Linked DNA regions of Homo sapiens: all the other regions are linked to region 1. The links come from fine-mapping of genetic effects on gene expression. A gene starts in region 1. Each other region holds a variant in brackets. All regions are shown on one strand. Distances are between the middles of the regions. Region 1 holds the start of ARSA (arylsulfatase A). Region 2 overlaps SHANK3 (SH3 and multiple ankyrin repeat domains 3). Region 3 has its middle 2.2 kb from the start of MAPK8IP2. Region 4 overlaps MAPK8IP2 (mitogen-activated protein kinase 8 interacting protein 2). Region 5 has its middle 8.7 kb from the start of SHANK3.

Evidence for each region. PIP is the estimated chance that this variant, and not a neighbour inherited with it, causes the effect.
Region 2: its variant is fine-mapped to the expression of ARSA in monocytes (TOPMed, PIP above 0.99).
Region 3: its variant is fine-mapped to the expression of ARSA in macrophages (Alasoo 2018, PIP 0.95).
Region 4: its variant is fine-mapped to the expression of ARSA in whole blood (INTERVAL, PIP above 0.99).
Region 5: its variant is fine-mapped to the expression of ARSA in whole blood (INTERVAL, PIP 0.97).

What each region holds. Positions count from the first base shown.
Region 1 is chr22:50,625,731-50,629,844 of GRCh38, forward strand. ARSA (arylsulfatase A) reads right to left here and starts at 2,422. Exons shown (of 8, transcript NM_000487.6): 1 at 1,826-2,422; 2 at 1,436-1,676; 3 at 1,104-1,322; 4 at 861-1,030; 5 at 424-548; 6 at 206-333. The coding sequence starts at 2,049. RefSeq lists an enhancer at 600-1,382 and a silencer at 2,317-2,506.
Region 2 is chr22:50,710,110-50,714,223 of GRCh38, forward strand. SHANK3 (SH3 and multiple ankyrin repeat domains 3) reads left to right here. Exons shown (of 25, transcript NM_001372044.2): 21 at 1,506-1,529. Among named protein-coding and RNA genes, the nearest start is that of ACR, 26 kb to the right of the region's middle. The variant A/G (reference allele first, on the strand shown) is at 2,234.
Region 3 is chr22:50,596,491-50,600,604 of GRCh38, forward strand. No RefSeq gene overlaps it. Among named protein-coding and RNA genes, the nearest start is that of MAPK8IP2, 2.2 kb to the right of the region's middle. RefSeq lists a silencer at 3,713-3,892. The variant C/CT (reference allele first, on the strand shown) is at 2,061.
Region 4 is chr22:50,605,405-50,609,518 of GRCh38, forward strand. MAPK8IP2 (mitogen-activated protein kinase 8 interacting protein 2) reads left to right here. Exons shown (of 12, transcript NM_012324.6): 6 at 1-39; 7 at 158-330; 8 at 421-530; 9 at 1,254-1,361; 10 at 1,517-1,587. Among named protein-coding and RNA genes, the nearest start is that of MAPK8IP2, 6.7 kb to the left of the region's middle. RefSeq lists an enhancer at 3,823-4,114. The variant A/G (reference allele first, on the strand shown) is at 2,264.
Region 5 is chr22:50,662,040-50,666,153 of GRCh38, forward strand. No RefSeq gene overlaps it. Among named protein-coding and RNA genes, the nearest start is that of SHANK3, 8.7 kb to the right of the region's middle. The variant T/C (reference allele first, on the strand shown) is at 1,954.

The sequences.
Region 1 (4,114 bases):
ACATACCTGGGGCTGCCAGCCCTGGTGGGAGGCCCTGGACGTGCACCGCTTCTTGCCCACCCAGGAACCTGAGAGGTGGCGCCACTTGGATGCCACTCAGTGCAGGAGGCACTGAGGCACAGACTCTCAGGCACTGCCCACACTCACCCCAGGGGAAGGCCAGGACAGGGGCCAAGGATCTGGGATCAGGGGTCACCGGCCCTACCTTGCCTGTGCCCAGCAGCAGGGGGCTGAGGTCAAAGCCATCCAAGGTGACATTGGGCAGTGGGGCCCCAGCCAGGGCTGCCAGGGTAGGCAGCAGGTCCAGGGAGCTGGCCAGCTCGTGGGTCACGCCTGGGGGCAGGAGGCTGGTCAGTCACTCAGTTCGCCATCAAGGTTGGGGTGGTGGGGCCAGGGTTCCAAGGAGAGGGCCTGCGGACTGACCGGGAGCGATATGACCTGGCCAGAAGGCCAAGGCAGGCTCTCGGACACCGCCCTCGTAGGTCGTTCCCTTTCCACACCGCAAGAGACCGGAGCAGCCGCCTCGGGACATACGCATGGTCTCAGGTCTGGGACACAGGAGGCGCTCATGAGCCATGGAGCCACAGCCTCTGAGCCACCGAGGGTGACCAGTGGCCCCACACCTCTAAGTCACAAAGCTTGCCCGGAGGTGCCCAGCATGAGCCCGGCACCTCCCAGGCCTACCAAGACCAGCTCTCTGTGCACTGTGTCTCCTGACTACACCTTGGGCCCCTGCAACGTGGCCAGCATCTCCTGGCACCCCCTCACCCACTATGTTCTTGGCAAGCAGCTGAACTGCAAGGCCTCCAGGGCCCTGGCCCGTGACAGGGCCGGAGCACCCAGCTGCCCTGCTGGCATACCCATTGTCTGCAGTGAAGATGACCAGCGTCTCTTCAAGCAGCCCCAGGTCCCCTATGGCTGTCATCAGGGTCCCCACAGCTGCATCCAGCTCCATCAGGGAGTCCCCAAATGGCCCGCGGCCTGAACGCTCTGCAAAGCTCTGCCCACTGAACTGAGGGTAGTGGGTGTGCTGGGGGCAAAGACTGGAGTTAGCACTGGGTAGGGGTCACGGGCAGCCAGGGGGTTGGGCCAAGATCACTTACGTGAGAGGCATAGTACAGGAAGAAGGGGCGATCCTGGCGCTGGGCGTCGGCCATGAGGTCATGGGCGAAAGCCATGTAGCGGGCCTCTAGTCCGGGCAGCCAGGGGGGCTGCGCCTCCACGGACAGGTTGGCCAACAGTGGGATGGGGACCAGGCCCTGGTCACAGCCACCGTCGCAAGGAGTGGCCGGCGGGAAGCAGGTCAGGTTCTGGCAGGGGCCCTGAGGCGGGCAGCTGCCGTGAGGGCTGGGCTGGCAGGTGGGGCTGCGGGAGCATCAAGGGCTGGGGGACTTTGGGAGGTGGGAGGGTGGCTGAGGGCCCGGGTGGTTCCTACCTGGTCGTGGGAGTACGGGATGCCTAGAAATCGATGGAAGCCCTGATGGGGGGGCAGGAAGGCCCCCTCAGGCCCCACCCCAAGGTGCCACTTGCCGGCCATTCCTGTGAGGTAGCCTCGGGCAGCCAGGACTTCGGCCACGGTCACCTCCTCCAGGGGCAGGCCCCCCCGGGAGCTGGGCACCAGGACGCCAGGGTACATGCCCATCCGAACCGGGAGCCGGCCGGTCAGGAGGGCGGCCCTGCGGGACAAGTCACAGAGTCCCTGAGACAGACAGAAATGTGGCCTTCCCTAGAGAGAGAGACAGACGTTTTTCCCGCCCCCCTGCAATCCATTGGGAGGAAAGGGATGGAGGGTCGGGGCGGGGAAGAGGCGCGGCCCCCTCTTTACCTAGAGGGTGTGCACAGAGACACAGGCACGTAGAAGTCTGTGAACCGCAGCCCTCCCGCCGCCAGCTGGTCCAGGTTGGGAGTGGTAGAGCTGGGGTGCCCATAGCAGCCCAGGTCCCCATAGCCGAGGTCGTCGGCAAAGATCAGCACGATGTTGGGCGGACGGGCAACGGCCAGGCCAGCAGCCAGGGCCAGGAGGAGGGACCGCGGTGCCCCCATGGACATGGGACCGAGGGGTCTGTCCCAAGAGAGGGAGGGCTACTTGGCTCCAGCAGGCTCTTTCCGATACCGCAGACCCAGGCGCCGCCCTTCCCTGAGACCCCGGACCCAAATACTCCCCGACCCTGACGGCCGCCTCCTGAAGCTCCAGAGGGCCGGGGCCCGACAGTACCGGGAGACCGCGGGCTGGGACGGAACTCCTCCAGGACCAGGGCACCTTCAGATTCTCGAGCGGAGATCTGATCCTCCTCGCCTAGCGGTCCGGGCTCAGGGTCGGGGGCGTAAGTCACTTGGCGCTGACCAGCGGAGTCGGGCCGGGGGGAAGGCGCTAGAGGGAGCCCAGGAGGAGCCGGTACCGGGCTGCGGGCGCTTCCGCCTCGGCCCCGCCCCGTGACCTGTGACCCTTGCGGGGCGGGGCCGGGGGCGGGGCCGGGGGCGGGGCCGGGGGCGGGCCGGGGCGAGGGGCGTTGCTGCGCGTGCTCGCTCCGAGGCCGCCGTGTGCGCCTGAGGCTGTTGGCTGCGGTCTTGAAACGGGCTCTGGGAGCTTCCTCTGCGCGGTCGGCCCTGGCTGAGGCGTCCCGGGCTGCGCGCGGGGCTCGGCGCTGCGCAGTGTCCGGTGTCCTCTCGGTCCGGAGCTTCTCCAGAGGAGGAGCGGCTCGTGCGCCCCCAGACCTCCGGTACTGGGAGACTCGGGCCCTCCTGTAAGAGACCTGAGCGCGGAGCGTTATGGGCACCCGGTGAATGAGCAAATGGCAGGGAAAACCGTGCAGCCCCATGGACTGCGGGCTCTTCCTTCACGACTAGCAAAAGCTTTGACACCCTTTCTCCTGCGTACGCGTGTCTGTGTGCGTGTAAGCTGTGGCTGGGTGCGGGGGGCTGTGTACGTGTCTGTGTGTGGTGTGTGTGGAGTGTTTGAGGCAGGTGTGTGGTGTTTCAGGTGTGTGTGCATGTGTGGTGTTTGAGGTGTGTGTGTGTGTTTTTGTAGTGTTTGAGGGATATGTGTGTGTGGTGTTTGAGGTGGGTGTGTGGTGTTTGAGGGGTGTGTGTGTGTGGTTGAGGGGTGTGTTTGGTGTTTGAGGGGTGTGTGTGGTTGAGGTGTATGGTGGTTGAGGTGTGTGTAGTGTTTGAGGCACGTATGTGTGTGGTGTTGGGTGTGTGTGGTGTTAGAGGTGTGGCGTATGTGTGTTTGCGGTGGTTGAGGTGTGTGTGTGTGTCTGGTGTTTAGGGTGTGTCTGTTGTGTGCGTGTGGTGGTGGAGGCGTGGTGTGGTGTGGAATGTGTGTCTGGGGTCCAGTCTGGCCTGTTGCAGGGTTACGCTGCTGGGGAAAAACTCATCTGAGGACAACGTGATTGGGTCCTCGCTCCCTCGTTGGGCAGCCTTGGACTTAACCTTTTTGATCTTGAAGGAAAACACAATATGTCACCTCCAAATATATTTCCTTGACACGGTTCAAGACAGTTACTCAGAAGGACTGGAAATAGAAGAATAGCTGAAAAGCTGTCTTTTGTGGGGGAGATTTGCATCTGTGGAGAGAATCTACACTGATGCGGCCAGGCCTCCTCTGAGGCCCTCCTTGCCTGATCTGGGAAGAGTAACAGTCTGACGCCTTTAAAGGCCTGAAGGGAACATTCACCATCTGTTCTCTCTCAGGGCTGCTACCTGTGAGGTTTCATCTGTAGAACAAGGCCACCTTTGCTAGCCAGGCCTCCTCTGCTCTCCCTCCTGTAACCGGTCTTGCCACTGGTCACCTGATTTTCCACCATAAACTGTGGCCATACTTTGAGCCCATGTTCTTTCTGTAACCTCAAGATGGTATATAAGCTTCCGAACCCCATTGGGAGGTTGGGGTCATCACTCTGGTTCTCCCTGTGTGCATGAATAAATCTGTATGCCTTTTTTCTTACTAACCTGGCTTTTGTCAGTTGATTTTCTGTGAACTCAGAATGCAGAAAAGTTTTTCTCTAGGCTCCTACAGTTTTGGTGCAGTCGGTAGGATAACTAAAGTCACTCTCCTGGGAGCCTCCGTCAGGGGAACCCAGGAGCCGACAAGCTGGCAGAAAGAAGGGTAAGA
Region 2 (4,114 bases), 84 kb after region 1:
CTTTAGGATCCATAGTCTATCGAGAAGGTGCCTGGACACCTAAAAAGAAAAGAAAGTGAGGTGTCAGAGAAAGCAGGTGCAAGTCGGAGGCTCCTGTCCAGGTGGCTGTTTGCTGCTCGGAGGATGTGGGAGAGGCATGGCCCTGTTGGAGGAAGGGGAGGGAAGGGGTATCCTGTGGGGGAATGGGGTGAGCAAAGGCTGGTGCCTGGAAAATGGAGGGTTGCAGAGCTGGGAGTGAGAGGAAGGGGCTGGGTGGGGACCCTCCTGAGATAGGTGGTGAGAGAGAGAAGAGGGCAGAACACCCCTCCTCCCCTCAGCACTGGGGGCTCCTCATGGTCGCCACATGCATGTCTGCTCGGTTTGTACCAGGAATGTGCTGGGGCCACAGGTCAGTGGAGACCCAGGCCAGGGAAGGCCCTGTGGCGGGTCCAAGCCCTTCCTGTGTATTCACGTTCCCGGGAGAACTCTGGACTTCCCTGTAATTTCTGGGCCCCTTTTTCTTTTGTGATGAGAACATCAGGGTAGGTGCCACACCCAGCATCTATGTGAGTGGCCTTGTCCTGGAAAAGGTTTCTGTGCCAAACACACTTGCCCTGCCTTTTAAGACCGACTTTGAACAGAACACAGAGGTGACCACCTTAATTTTCAGCGACACCTGAACTTGTTTTCTATGGGGTTTTGCCTTTTTTCTGAACAAACGTTTGACTGAGCCAAGCATGATGGAGTTGTGCATATCTGTGTGTGTGTGCGTGTCTGTGCGTTGGTGAGCGGACACGCGCTGTCTGCACCTGCGTGCATGCGGCACACATGTCTGTGCGTGGGTGAGTGGACACGTGCTGTGTGCACCTGCATGCGTGTGGCACACGTGTGTGCATGGGTGAGCGGATACGCACTGTGTGCGCCTGCATGCGTGTGGCACACATGTCTGTGCGTGGGTGAGCAGACGCGCTGTGTGCACCTGCATGCGTGTGGCACACGTGTGTGCGTGGGTGAGCGGATACGCGCTGTATGCACCTGCGTGCATGCAGCACACGTCTGTGCGTGGGTGAGCGGATACGCGCTGTGTGCGCCTGCATGCGTGTGGCACACGTCTGTGCGTGGGTGAGCGGATATGCAGTGTGCGCCTGCATGCGTGTGGCACACGTGTGTGCGTGGGTGAGCGGATACGCGCTGTGTGCCCCTGCGTGCATGCAGCACACATGTCTGTGCGTGGGTGAGTGGACATGCGCTGTGTGCACCTGCATGCATGTGGCACACACACACAAGTCCCTGCTTGTGGTTGTTTCCTCCTTGGCTTTCAAGGCATGTACCAACTGACTCCAGAGTTGGGCAGATTTGCTATTCACGGTCTGATAAAGAGGTGTAGGCTGGGGGCAGATTTGGGAGGTCATGGTTTTTGGGGGAGGTGGTGGTGAGAGGGATGGGGTGGGGAAATGAGTGTGGATAATGGGGCCCGGGTGCCGAGCCTGCCTCTTACTCCCTTTACTCTGTTTCTTGATTCCAAGCCTCCATTCGGAGAAGAAAAGGGGGTGAGTCATCTGCCTGTGTCCCCAGGGCCTTGGCTTTGCCTGACCCCTGTCTGGGGGAGTGCTGGTGTGTGAGGAGGTTCCAGCGCAAGTCAGGGTGGCCTGGAAGCCTGGGCTGCACCCTCCTGTTGGCCTTCTCCCTGGGCATCTGGTAGGGGCATGAGAGAAGGGCCTGCAAGGATGGATGGGGAGTTCCCAGGGGTGTGACCCTCTGAGACTGTGATGGCCTTGGGGGCTCAGGTGAGCCTGGGGCCTGTGAGCTGTGCAGATAGCCTGATGGAGGCAGCCCGTGGGGAGGAGCTGGGAGAGCCCCGTGGAGGCCACTGCATGCACCATGGCCCGGACAGCAGGAGGGAAAGGGCTCCGAGGGTCCCAGAGGGGGAGCTCTAGGGAGCAGGGAGACTGGGCCGTGTTGGCGTGCACGTTGCTTCTTTCTGCTGGTCCTCTCGGGGCCTGTGCTTGGGTTGTGGGACCTACTCCCGTGCTGGTTGGTTGTAGGGCCAAGCCCAGAGCTGATGGTCCCTTCAGAGCAGGGGTCTGAGTCCCACAGCACTGGGGAAGGAGCTTGGAGCTCCCCTGGCCAAAGACCCCAGGCTGTTGACTACCCTCCTGAACCCCCGTTCAGGCCTCCCTCTACCCTTTGGGGCTGCTCCCTGTATGTCCTTTATGTTCAGCCTGGTTGCAGGGGAGGGCGCATTCAGGTGGGG[A/G]CAGTCACCTGGGCCTGGGTACTGAGGTCCACTGTCTGGTGAAGTCCTGGGACCCGGCTTCCGGCAGCCTCCTCTGCCTCTCGGGTGGATGGGAATCAGGGCCCAGACAGAGGCTTGAGGTGGCTTTCTCCACCCAGGCCTGTATATTTGCTCCACGTCCGTGTACCTGATGCCCATCCCTCCCTCTCTCTCGACCCACTGGGCTTTCCCTGGGTGAGGACACATCTGCCAGGCCCTTGGCCCAGCCCTCTTGAGGTCCCCTTGCTGCCTCTTGCCCCAGCCCAGGTGAAGGGCTTCCCCAGTGTCTTCTCAGGTATTAAAAACAGGTGACAAGGTCTCCTCCAGTGACCTTTTCTGCATGCCTTTGGGGCAGACATACAAGCTATTTCTGGAATCTTCTGGCTCTGCCCTCTAGCTCGTTAGTGGGGCTCCCAGGGTGCTGTGTTGCAGCCCAGGTGCTGCTCCAGTTGTGGAAGAAGTGATGGCTGGTTGATCATCCCGCAGGCTGGGGCCCTGTTGATCAAACAGCTGCAAACCCAGCTGTGTCCTGCTGTGCACCCAGAGGGCCCTGGGAGTGAGCGGGTCCACTTGGTTCCTGATGGGCTTTGTTTCCCTTAATTATCTAAAATTATTTATTTAAGAATATATCCTCTAATATTGGGGGGAGATTTATGTCAACCTCATCAGTTTGTAATTTGCAGAATTCTTGATGAATCCTTTCCCTTTTGAAAACACTTCTCACCCGGCTCCAGCACCATCGCCGGATGACCAGAAACAGCTGCTCACTAAACGTTATGTGCGTCCCGCTGTGGGTCTCTGGGATGGGTCTTCCAGACCTAGAGAGACAGCCTCTCCTAGCCCGTGGCTCAGGCGGCAACGTGTCTCCCATGATGCTGAGCCGTGTGTGCCTCACGGAGTTTTCTCTCCATTCATATCTTTACTTCTGCAGTTTCCGGGGAGTATGGTGCTTAAGTCTCATCTCTTACTTCCTAGTCAGAGATTTATGGCAATTTCGCTTCAGTTTGCTCCTGGGTTGGATAAGGGTGATGATAAAATCCTCGTGTAGTTGTGGGATGAGAGGAGTGGTTTGCATAAAGTCCCGCATACTCTAGAAATCACCAAGAACTTAACAGATGGTGGCAATGGTGACTTCAACTCCCAAAAAGAAATCATTCACTTCATGACAAAAGCAAATGAGAAGTCCCCTCAAACCAGCAGCCCCTGGTCTGTACCTGGGCCCCTGTCACCTGGTGGCACTGGGAGCTGTGCACAGGCCCAGATATCTGCAGTTGGAGCCTGTTTTGCTGGTAAACTCTTGTATCGTTCAGGACACAGGCTGGGCGCTGATGGAACACAGAGAACAGTATTTGCTCTGTTCTGCAGACCCGGAAGCTGTCTGGGGAGATGGGGCACACAGACATGAATTGTACTGAATTGTGTCCAGTGCCAGCACAGTTGTAAGCCTTTCTTCTGTGCTAATTCTCACTAGAGACACGTGAGCGAGCACTGTTTTTATGCCTGTTTTATCAATGAGGACACAGAGGTCACAAAGAGGTTATGTCAGGACAGAGTCAGTGTACAGGGTGGGTCTGGTCTGGGTTGGGTACAGGACAGTCTTGGGGAGTTCCTTCCTTCCAGCAATGCTAAGCTTGGGGAGTTCCTTCCTTCCTTCCAGCAATGCTAAGCAGATTGCAGAGGTAGAATCAGCAGGTGCTGTGAACAGCTGCAGATTGGAGTTGGAAGGAGTAGGAGGTGTCCAGTCTGACCGTTGAAATTCTCCAACAAGGGGCCAAGACAAGAGTGAAAGGTGCCAAGACAAGTGTGGCCAGACAGTGGTCCCTCTAGGGTTGGCATAGCCCCAAAGAGTGGAGAAGGGCTTGG
Region 3 (4,114 bases), 29 kb before region 1:
AGGCAGAGGTTACAGTGAGCTGAGATTGCACCACTACATTCCTGCCTGGGTGACAGAGCAAGACCCTGTCTCAAAAAAAAAAAAAAGTGGGTATTGTAGTAATGCAGCAAGAGACCAAGAAAAGTAGGAGGTAGTGATCAGAGACCTGGCTGCATAAAAATGAAGATTCGGGAAATGGTGGCGTTAGGACTTCACCATGGTGAAGGTAGAACTCTTAATTTTCATCTTTATTAAATGTGTCTGTTTGCAGTTTTAACCATTGGCATATTTATTTTGTGTTTGTGATTTCTGTGAAATATGAGTACAATAAATACTGATAGTTTGCATTTGTTTTCTAATCTCTCAGAAAGTTGTCAGAAAATGTTCTCTGACTTTTTAGAATTGCTGTGGTCAGGACTGTGGAAGCTGTTGCGATTCCAACTCTCCCTTCTAAGTCCAATCAATTTTGTGCTTTGTAATGTCTATGCCATTCGTGCACCATAGAGGGAAGAAAGCGTTAAAATGGTCGCGTCACAACATCTTGATTTGTCATTGAAGGAGAAGGAGTCTGGAAGGACGCTGACAACGGGTGGTGGTCAGGAAGGAAAACCCAGTGCCTGTGGCCCAGAGGCTGGAGGAGGAACTTCAAGGAGGGATGTTCAGCTCCCTGTGGACCCCCATTTGTTCATCCATACAATGATGCTCTGAGGAGCACACAAGGAAGGTGCAAATTTGATAAAATGTGCATGATGTAAGGAGCATAAACCCCCTCAGGAAAGAGTTGCTGCCTTTTCACTAATGTATCCCTGAGCTGCACAGAGCAGCCCTGGGGGACTGGGAGGACATGTCCCCGGTGTGAGGAGCAGGGGAAAGGTGAGCCTTAAATGATCACCAACAAACAACAGGGCCTGTGTCTGGGGCTTACACCACGACATGTGGTCCTCGCAGCACCATTGCTCAGAGGAAGAAACCAAGATCTCGAGGAACTGAGTAATTTGCCCACGTTCAACAAGTTGGTGCAAAATGAAGAGTGGCTCCCGTATTTCAGACTTTAAGGCCGACGATCTTCCATCTGTGCTCTGGGGGCAAGATGGGAGGTCCACAGATAAAATTGCGGGCGGTATCCCCCATCTCATGGTCTTTACGCTCATGGGACCTGGGAGTGACCATCTTTTAAGAGGGAGGGAAGGAAGGGGAGAGGCTTGAGGAAGGTTTTGGGGATTAGGATCTAAGATGAAATTTGAGACTATAAGACTTCAGATTGGATGCTGTGGCTCATGCCTGTCATCTCAGCACTCTGGGAGGCCATCACCTGGGCTTGGGCCCAGGAGTTTAAGACCAACCTGGGTAACATAGTGAGACCCTGTTTTTACAAAAACAAACAAAATGCCAGGTATGGTAGTGTGCACCTGTGGTCCTAGCTACTCAGAAGGCTGAGGCAGGGGGATTCCTTGAGCCCAGGAGTTTGAGGCTACAGTGAGCTAGGGACACACCACTGCACTCCAGCCTGGGTGACAGAGTGAGACCCTGTCTCAAAAAAAAAAAAAAAAAAAAAGATTTTAAGCTTGCTGCAATTCCAGATGAAGGTAGATCCTGGAGGCACTTTGTGGGAGAGGTCACTACACTTGAGTATTAAAGACTGTTGACAGATCAGAAATCAAGGAACTGACTGACCAGGGTATTGGATGGGTCATTTATGTGGATGTCCAGATGAACCAGTTTGGTGAAAAGACTCAGGATCAAAAGCCAATCTGGAAAGTTGAGGTCAAACTCTCTGTGAAATCTGGGAAGGGATCTGGATTTTTTGGGAAAGGCAGGGAGTGGTTAATAGGCCCAGACTCCCTCAGAAATGGGGAATGTTCTTAGTGCTTCTAAAAGGGAAAAGACTGTTATGGCAAAGACCTGATGCCCCAGACTGGGTTAGAGACCATAAGCTCTCTCATTCATTCATTCACATGTCTGCTAAGCACCTACTGTTTGCCAGGCACCATGCTTGGAGCCTAGGGCTTCACAGAGAGATGACAGCCTCTCTTCTCTCCAGCCAACCCAAGTCAAGAAGGCAAGCATAAACTAGTAAATGG[C/CT]TTTTTTTTTTTTTTTGAGATGGGATCTCACTCTGCCCCCCAGGTTGGATGCAGTGGTGTGATCTCAGCTCACTGCAACCTTTGCCTCCTGGGCTCGGCCAATTTTTTTTATTTTTGGTAGAGACATGTTTCCAGGCTGGTTTCAAACTCTTGAGCTCAAGTGACGCACCCACCTTGGCCTCCCAAAGTACTGGGATTACAGGTGTAAGTCACTGTGCCCAGCCAAGTAAATGCCATTCTTAGAAAAATACTGTAATTGGCATAAAATATAAATTGTGATGGGACACCAAAGAGTGCAGGTTCAATCAGGCCCTGGCCACAGGCCTCTCTCTGAGCTGGAATGGTGATACCCCCCTTCCCGACTTGCATGAGCTCCTTCTGCCATGTCGTTTCTGGTGTTTGTCACTCAAGTGCCTTGTCCTTTCCTAAGGAATAATTTTCCAGGCCAGGGGCGGTGGCTCACGCCTGTAATCCCAGCACTTTGGGAGGCCAAGGAGGGCAGATCACCTGAGGTCAGGAGTTTGGGACCAGCCTGGCCAACATGGCAAAAACCCATCTCTACTAAAAACACAAAAATTAGCCGGACATGGTGGTGATTGCCTGTAATCCCAGCTACTCGGGAGGCTGAGGCACGAGAATCGGTTGAACCCGGGAGGTGGAGGTTACAGTGAGCTGAGATCGTGCCACTACACTCCAGCCTGGGCAACAGAGCAAGTTCTGTCTCAAAAAAAAAAAAAAAAAAAAAAAAAAAAAAAAAAAAAAGAATTTTCCGCAGAACTAAGACATAAAGAAATCTTAGGGCACATAACTTTCATCAAGGGGGAAAAGGGATTGCGCTTTTGTTGAAATGCCAGCCTCCTTCTTTAGCCAATATTTAGCCAGGTGCTGTGGTTCACACCTGTAATCCCAGCACTTTGGGAGGCTGAGGCCAGAGGATAGCTGAGCCCAGGAGTTTGAGACCAACCTGGGCAATACAGAGAGAGCCGGTCTCTCTCTCTCTCTTTTTTTTTTTTTGAGACGGAGTCTTGCTCTTGCCAGGCTGGAGTGCAGTGGCGCAATCTCGTCTCACTGCAACCTCCGCTTCCCGGGTTCAAATGATTCTCCTGGCTCAGCCTCCCAAGTCGCCGGGACTACAGGCGCCCGCCACCACGCCCGGCTAATTTTTTTGTATTTTTAGTAAAGACGGGGTTTCACCATGTTGGCCAGGATGGTCTCTGGTCTCGATCTCTTGACGTCGTGATCCACCCGCCTTGGCCTCTCAAAGTGGTGGGATTGCAGGCGTGAGCCACCGCGCCCAGCCACCGGTCTCTATTTTAGAAAGAAAAAAAGTGTCCTGCAGTCTCTCCCTAGTTCTGCGCCCTCAACCCTGATCTCCCGCCTCCTCCCACAGCCACCGTCTCGAGCTCAGCTTCAACCATGGCCCTCCCCACAGGGCTCCATCCCAAGCCAGAGCGGGTCAGTTCCCTACACAGGGCCCAGCAACACGGTGCCCAAGAAAAAGTGTTTCCAGTGGGACGCATGTCGCCTCCGTGGGTGCTAACTTCTCCCAGTGCCCGTCGGTACGTCCGTCCGGCTGTGCAGTCTCTACTGAGTGCTCAAAGTCCACTTTTAGCCCCAGCCAGCATCCTCTGAGTACCTTGTGCTCGATTCTGAATCCAGCCCTGCTCGGCGACCCTCGTGCAGACGTCCCCGTGCAGCCCCGGTCAGCACCCCGTGGGGACAGCTCCGATCAGCACCCGACGGCGGACAGCTCCTCCCGCGCCTCCCGCCTCGCCCGCCACCCCGCTCCGGGCCGCACCCGGGTTAGGGTTCCTGGGGGGATCCTGGGCGCGGCGGCGCAGCTCCCGGGGCCGCCCCGGCCTCTCGCCCAGAGGAAACAGCCCACGGCGAACCCGAGGCCCGCGGACCCCGGCGCTGCCTCCTCGGCCTCCCGCCCCGCGCGGGTCCTCCAGGGCGGGGCCCGACGCCCACCCGCCCGCCCCTTCCCTCCCGCCCCTCCCCGGGAAAAATCCTCATCGCACGCCCGGCCCTTCCCCAACCAGCGCCCGGCAGTG
Region 4 (4,114 bases), 20 kb before region 1:
CGGCGAGGAGCGAGAGCAGACTCACCGGGCTGTGTTCAGGTACGGCCTCCCTCCTTGCTGGCGGTGGCCCCAGCCTCAGTCCCTGCCATCACGGAACGCCAGTGGACACGACCGTCAATCCCGCCCCCCTCCCCAGTGACCTCTCCCCCAACGGCAGGTTCATCCCGCGGCATCCAGACGAGCTGGAGCTGGATGTGGATGACCCTGTGTTGGTGGAGGCCGAGGAGGACGACTTCTGGTTCCGTGGCTTCAACATGCGCACGGGGGAGCGCGGTGTGTTTCCTGCCTTCTACGCCCATGCGGTGCCCGGCCCTGCCAAGGACCTGCTGGGTGAGGTCCCAACCCCGAGGGGAGGCTTTTCACCCCAGATCCTCCCCTGTGCCCCTGCCTGACCTGGGCCCTCTGTGCCCCGCTCCCCAGGGAGTAAGCGGAGCCCCTGCTGGGTGGAGCGCTTTGACGTGCAGTTCCTGGGCTCCGTGGAGGTGCCCTGCCACCAGGGCAACGGCATCCTGTGTGCAGCCATGCAGAAGGTCAGTGTGGAGGCCGGGCAAGTGCAGGCTGAGGGTCCGCTTGGCGGCCACACCAGCACTGCAGGCTGGCACAGGGCTTGAGGCTCCAAGGTCTGAGGTCTGATTTCCTCCAGGGAGGGTCTGGGGGATGCTGCAGGGGGAGCTCGGGGTGGGTACCCCAGGCCCTGGTTCAGAGGCCTGAGCAGGTGAGTCTAGGGCAGAGCACAGCAGCTGTCCCTCATCACCTCTGGGTCTCTGGGCCACAGATCTTCCAGGTGGCCCCGACTGCCATCAGCCCTTCCTCTTCCCATCTGGAATCAAGACCAGCCCTCACAGCCCCTTCCCTGGGAGCCCTCTACTCATCCACTCACTCAGTGGACGTTTAGTGAGCACCTGCCCAGGCACCAGTACTGAGGCTGAGGCTGGGGGGCAGTAGGGAGCAGGGCAGAGCAGCCCAGGGCGGGTGAGGTCTCTGTTCCTGGCTCCTGAGCCAAGCGCAGCAGCCTGCCTGGAGGAGCAGAAGGAAGATGAAGCAAGCTGACTGCAGAGAGGCGATTGCTCCTCCTGAGCCTGAGGAGTGGCCAAGGCCACACCCCTTATGTCTTCCAGAATTGCATCTCAGGGTCCTCAGCATGTGTGTCCTCAAACATAAGCTAAAAGGAGCAGAGGCGTAGTCCCACCAAGGGGAAAGAAAGGCCCTTGTGGGCTCCTCAAGACCCTCTTCTCCCCCAACTTCTTCTGTAGATTGCCACTGCCCGGAAACTGACCGTCCACCTGCGCCCTCCTGCCTCCTGTGACCTCGAGATCTCTCTTCGGGGGGTCAAGCTGAGTCTGAGCGGAGGAGGGCCCGAGGTGGGAGTGTGGGGGACTGGGGACCGGGGACTGGGGGATAGGGTTAGGCCACGGAGTCCGACGGGGCCAGGCTGGCAGGGGTGTCCAGTAGGTGGGAGGCAGGGGTGGCGCCAGGCCTCCTTTGACACAGGGACTTCTGCCCACCTCTGCTCTAGTTCCAGCGCTGCAGCCATTTCTTCCAGATGAAGAACATCTCCTTCTGCGGCTGCCATCCCCGCAACAGCTGGTGAGAGTCTGACCGTCCCCGAGTCCCCCAACCGCCCCCACAAACCCTGAGAGTCCAACCGCCCCCTGAGTCCCCACAGACCCTGAGGGCTGCCCGTGCCCAGCCCTGAGAGCTCCACCTGCACCCACTTAGCTCTGTGAGCTGAGCCTGCAGTGGCGCCTGCTCTGAGCTGGACTCAGGAGGCGTGGGTCAGACAGGCTTGCATCCAGTCTGGGTGGAGAGAGGCACACGGGCGAAGGATGTGAGAAGCCTGTGTGGGTGCAGAGGACGCCTGAGTGGGCCTGGGGCTCAGGATGGCCAGCCTGGAAACACAGCAGGTGACAGCGGTGGGGAAGTGGATCTTCCTGGTGGGGTCTAGCTGAGCCAAGGGTGTGGGATGCACTGGTCGGGGGCTATATAGGCTCTGGGGCCCGCGTGTAAGGGGAGCAGCTAGAAATGCCGGGGAAGACCTGGACCCTTTTGATTATGCCAAGGAGCTGTACTTAATCTTGCTGGTAATGAGGCCATAGAAGGCTCCTAATGGAAGGAGGTGACACAGGGGACCTGGGGGCTGCTGAGGTTATACAGGTGCTATGTCCTGAGACCAAGTGTGCAGATGCAAGAGGCACTGAAGAGGCAGTACAGGCAGGACCTAGGTTGACCGGCTGTAGAGGGTGACCTGGAAGAGACCAGGGTG[A/G]CGTCTCCCTGGGGGATGGTTGTACTGCAGCCCACACACCGAGAGGGGATGCGGGATCAATCACAAACGGTGAGACTGAAGTGGCCGTTGGTCCCATGGGTCTGGAGTTTAGGAGGGAGACCTGGAGGGAAGATACCAGGTCAGAGCAGGTAGATCACTGAGACGAGAGGGGAATGGCCAGGCAGGGTGAGGGGAGGAGGGGAGGAGGAGGTGCTGGCATAGGAGCAGCAGGCCAAGGGGGGCTGCCAGCTTCCCTCCAGGCACAGGCCCCTGCCCTCTGTGTCCCAGCACCCTAGAGGAAGGAGATCTGGGAGGAACCAGAGAGGCAGAGCCAGCCAGAGGCTGGAAAGGACTTGCGGGGAGTTGGAGGAAGCAGGCTCACAGACAGGCAAGACACAGCAGGGCACGGTGCTGCCAGGACTGAGGCGTGGGACAGACGTCAGTGCATCTTGGGGGCCTTGTGGACTCTCCCTGTGGTCGAGAGTGAGGGTGCTGCCTGCTGGAAGGTGCGGAGCCCTTTTGTGTTGTCCCCGCCGAGTGCAGAGATGGTCTGATGGGATCCATGCGGAAACGCTGCTCAGTGGGGTGGAGAGGTGGGACAGCGGGCAGCGATGCAGACCAGACTGCGGGGCCAGCTCTGGGGTGGAGAGGTGGGACAGCGGGCAGGGGCGCAGACCAGACAGCGGGGCCAGCTCTGGGGTGGAAAGGTGGGACAGTGGGCAGGGGCGCAGACCAGACAGTGGGGCCAGCTCTGGGGTCACCAGGACAGCGAACGGGGCGCAGACCAGACAGCAGGGACAGCTCTGGGGTGGAGAGGTGGGACAGCGGGCAGGGGCGCAGACCAGACAGCGGGGCCAGCTCTGGGGTGGAGAGGTGGGACAGTGGGCAGGGGCGCAGACCAGACAGTGGGGCCAGCTCTGGGGTCACCGGGACAGCGAACGGGGCGCAGACCAGACAGCAGGGACAGCTCTGGGGTGGAGAGGTGGGACAGCGGGCAGGGGCGCAGACCAGACAGCAGGGACAGCTCTGGGGTGGAGAGGTGGGACAGTGGGCACGGGCGCAGACCAGACAGTGGGGCCAGCTCTGGGGTCACCGGGACAGCGGACGGGGCGCAGACCAGACGGTGGGGCCAGCTCTGGGGTCACTGGGACAGCGGACGGGGCGCAGACCAGACAGTGGGGACAGCTCTGGGGTCACTGGGACAGCGGACGCTGCCAGGAGAGGAAGAATGACCCAAATTTCTCATCAGAAGGAAACTGGGTGAAGCTCAGGTCTCAGGCTGGACAGGGCCCCAGCTAGAATTTCGTGAGAGGAAGGTGGTCAGTCGAGTTTGGGGTTTGGAGTCAAGATGTGGCAGGGGTGTGGGAGGAGGTGGAGGAGCTGCTGCCCTGGCCCAGACCTTCCTAATATTTGTCACCCCAGACCCCCCGTCCCCGGTCCCTTGCCACGAGGAGGCACGGACGAAACCGTGTGAGGTGAACGATGAACTCGTTTCTTCATGGCGGTGGTGGTAGGTCAGGAGAGCGTGGGGTGTGCTGTGTTGGGATCTGGCATTAGGATGTCTGGTGTTGGGATCACAGACTGTAGCCTTTTCTCCCAGGGCTGCCCATCCTGCCTGTGTGTCCTGGGCAAGCTCCTGAACCTCTGTGCCTAGCTCTCCATCAGGGCCCTACCTCAGAGGGCTGTTGTGAGGCTTCTGTGAGTTAATGGAAAGGGCAGAGGATGGTGCCTGAGTAATGCAGGAAGCCAGATCTGTGGGTCGGCGCTTATTACCATCATGACTTGAACGCGGCATTTGAGGCGGGCCCTGTGCTCTGTCTGTGGACAGCGTGCACACACTGTCCTGGCAAG
Region 5 (4,114 bases), 36 kb after region 1:
TGTGTGCCTGTAGTCCTAGCTACTCAGGAGACTGAGGTGGGAGGATAGCTTGAGCCTGGGAAGTTAAGGCTGCAGTGAGCCAAGATCATGCCACTGCACTCCATCCTGGGAAACAGAGTGAGACCCTGTCTCAAAAAAAAAAAAAAAAAAAAAAAAAAGAGGTGATTTTCTATACTATCAACAATTAGAAAATGAGGCTGGGCACGGTGGCTCATGCCTGTAATCCCAGCATTTTGGGAGGCCGAGGCAGGTGGATCACCTGTCAAGAGTTCACGACCAGCCTGGCCAACATGGTGAAACCCTGTCTCTACTAAAAATACAAAAAATTAACCGGTGTGGTGGCGGATGCCTGTAATCCCAGCTACTCGAGAGGCTGAGGCAGAAGAATCACTTGAACCCGGGGGGCAGAGGTTGCAGTGAGCCAAGATCATGCCATTGTACTCTAGCCTGGGCAACAAGAGTGAAACTCCATCTCAAAAAAAAAAATTAGAAAATGAAATTAAAATTATATTAAAATTTTTATTTGTAATACATGAAATAACACAAAATTTTTAGGAATGGATTTAGCAAAAATGTGTAAGAATGCTACACTGAAAGCTACTAAACATTGCTGAGATAAATTAAAGAGGACCAAAATATGTGGGAGGCTGAGGCAGGAGGATTGCTTGAAGCCAGGAGTTTGAGACCAGCCTTGGCAATAAAGCAAGACCCTGCCCCTACAAAATAAATAAACAAATAAATACATGAGGAAATATACTATGTTCATATAATAGAAAACTCAATATTATTAAGATGTCTATTCTCTCAATATATTTACAAATTCAGTGCAATACCAGTCAAATTCCCAGCAGGCTTTCTTGGGGAGTTAGAAATTGACAAGTTGATCCTAAAATTTATATAGAAATAAAAATGACCTAGAATAACCAACAAATTAAAAAAGAACAAAGTTACAGGACTTATCTGCTTTCAAGACTTACTATAAAGTTACAGAAATTAAACAGTATGGAATTGAAGAAAGTTATAAATATAGATCAAAGGAAAAGAATAGAGACAGAGTCCAGAAATAGACCCACACATATGTGGACAACTGATTTTCAACAAAAGTGCAAAGGCAATTCAGTGGAAAAGGAAGTCTTTTTAAAAATGGTGCTGAGAGGTCCCTAGAATAGTCAAATACATGGAGACAGAAAGCAGAACTGTGGTTCTAAGAGCTGGGTGGAAAGGAGACTGGAGGACTTATTGTTCAGTGAGTATAGTTTAATACGGGGTGATGAAAATGTCCTGGAGATGGTGGCGAATTCACTTAATGCCACAAAATTGTATACTTAAAAATTGTTAAAATGGTAAATTTTGTTATGTATATTTTACCACAATAAAAACTAAATTTAAAAATCTTAAAAATGGTTCTGAAACAACTGGACATGCTCCCCCCAAAAAAATATGAACAGCTACCTTTTCTTGATACCAAAAACAAAAATTAACTTGAAATTAATGACAGGCCTAAATGTAAATGCTAAAACTACACAGCCTGGGCAACATGGTGAGACCCCCATCTCTTTTTTTTTGAGACGAATTCTCGCTCTGTAGCCCAGGCTGGAGCGCAGTGGCGTGATCTCGGCTCACTGCAACCTCTGCCTCCTGGGTTCAAGTAATCCTCCTGCTGTAACGCAGGCGTGCGCCAACGTGCCCACCTAATTTTTGTATTTTTAGTGGAGACGGGATTTTGCCATGTTAGCCAGGCTGGTCTCCAACTCCTGACCGCAGGTGATCCATGCGCCTTGGCCTCCCAGGAATTACAGGTATGAGCCACCACGCCTGGCCCCCCATCTCTTAAAAAAAAGAAATAAAATAAAACTATAAAACACAGGAAAATATTTTTGTGATCTTGTGGTAGGCAAAGATTTTTTAGAGTGAACCCAAAGAATATGAGAACGATTAAACAAAAAAGATAAA[T/C]TGAATTCTATAATAATGCAAGACTTTTGTTCTTTGAAAGAGGCTATTACAAAAATGAAACGGCAAGCCAAGAAATTAGAGAACTTTTGCAATACATATATCTTATAAAAACTTGTATCCAGGGCCAGGCGCGGTGGCTCACGCCTGTAATCCCAGCACTTTGGGAGGCCGAGGCGGGCGGATCACGAGGTCAGGAGATCACGACCATCCTGGCTAACACGGCGAAACCCCATCTCTACTAAAAATACAAAAAAATTATCTGGGTGTGGTGGTGGGCCACTGTAGTCCCAACTACTCGGGAGGCTGAGGCAGGAGAATGGCGGGAACTCGTGAGGTGGAGCTTGCAGTGACCTGAGGTCGCGCCACTGCACTCCAGCCCGGGCGACAGGGGGAGACTCCGTCTCAAAACAACAACAACAACAAAAAACTTGTATCCAGATTATATAAGGAGCTCCTAAATTTTAATAACTCAAACCACTCAGTTTTTAAAAATGGCAATAGACTAGAACAGACACTTCACGAAAGAAGCTATGTGAATGGCCAATAAGCCATTCCCCAGCAGCCCGGACGTCCTTCTTGTGGTATGGCCGACTCTCTGGCTTTTGTTGGCTTCTTCATCTCTGATCCCATCTGCGTCATTCCAGTCATAACCCATTTGATGGTTCTAACATGAGGATGGATTTATTATTTAAAAATATACATAGTTCTAGGGCCAGGTGTGGTGACTCATGCCTGTAATCCCAGCAATTTGGGAGGCCGAGGTGGGTGGATCACTTGAGGCCAGGAGTTCGAGACCAGCCTGGCCAATATGGTGAAACCCCATCTCTACTAAAACTACAAAAATTAGCCAGGCATGGTGGTGCATACCTATAGTCCCAGCTACTAGGGAGGCTGAAGTATGATAATTGCTTGAACCTGGGAGGCAGAGGTGGCAGTGAGCCGAGATTGTGCCATTGCACTCCAGCCTGGGCGACAGAATGAAACTCTGTATCAAAAAAAAAAAAAATATATATATATATATATAAAATTTTTAAATCTTTAATTTTATAAGACTAGTCAAGCGCAGCACTGATAAGGGGAAATCAGTAGAACAGGGAATTCATTCTTTTTGTCTCTCCTGTGCTGTACCCTTAAACACGGTTATGATGGTGAACTGCATGTTATGTGCTTTTCACTACAATAAAAATAGGTACATAGATCTTAAATTGTCAGTGGCCTTTGAGAGAGTGGAGAGGTAAACACAGGCAAAACACATCGTCTTGAATGAAAAGATACTCGGAACCCTAAATGTGAAATTAACTAGACAAATATTTCTCACTTTTAATTTCACGTTTTTTTTTCCTTTGAGACAGGGTCTCGCTCTGTCTCCCAGGCTGGAGTGCAGTGGTGTGATCTCGGCTCACTGCAGCCTTGACCACCCAGGCTCAGGCGATCCTCCTGCCTCAGCCTCCCAAGTAGCCGGGACCACAGGCACGCGCCACCACGTCTGGCAAATGTCCGTAATTTTGTAGAGACGGGGCCTCACTTTGTTGCTCAGGTTGTTCTTAAACTTCTGAGCTCAAGTGATCTGCTCACCTTGGCTTCCCAAAGTGCTGGGATTACAGGTGTGAACCACCTTGGCCGGCTAATTCCACATTTCAATGTTAAAACAGTATTTTAAATTTAACACTCTTTCTAAGAATATACAACAAAGATCAGCCATCCCTTTACGCTGCTGTTTTGCTGCTAGATATGGAGAACACACTCATCAGAATACACTCCAAAATCTGAACTAGCTTTGATGATGATAAAATTTAGAGTGTTTACCAGGTACTAGGCATGTGCTAAGCATTTTACACACACGTACCTCATCTAGTCCACACAATGGCCCAGGAGGCTGAGAACTGACCTGTGAGCCTCTGAAGGCAGACACCTTGCATCTCAACCAGGCCTGCCATCTGGCCAGAATGAATGAGGAAATGAAACAGTTTGTACTATAGTCCCCAGCTTAGCTGAGCACACACGGAGACATAGGAAGGCTAGGAAGCTTTCCTAGGCCACCTGGGTATTTGGTGGCTGAGCTGGGCATTTGCTCCAAGTCCAGCTCTTGAACTTCTCTGGGAAATGTATTGTTCCTTGAAACCAAACTGCAGAAGTGCTATCAGATTTCAGGGACTAAAAT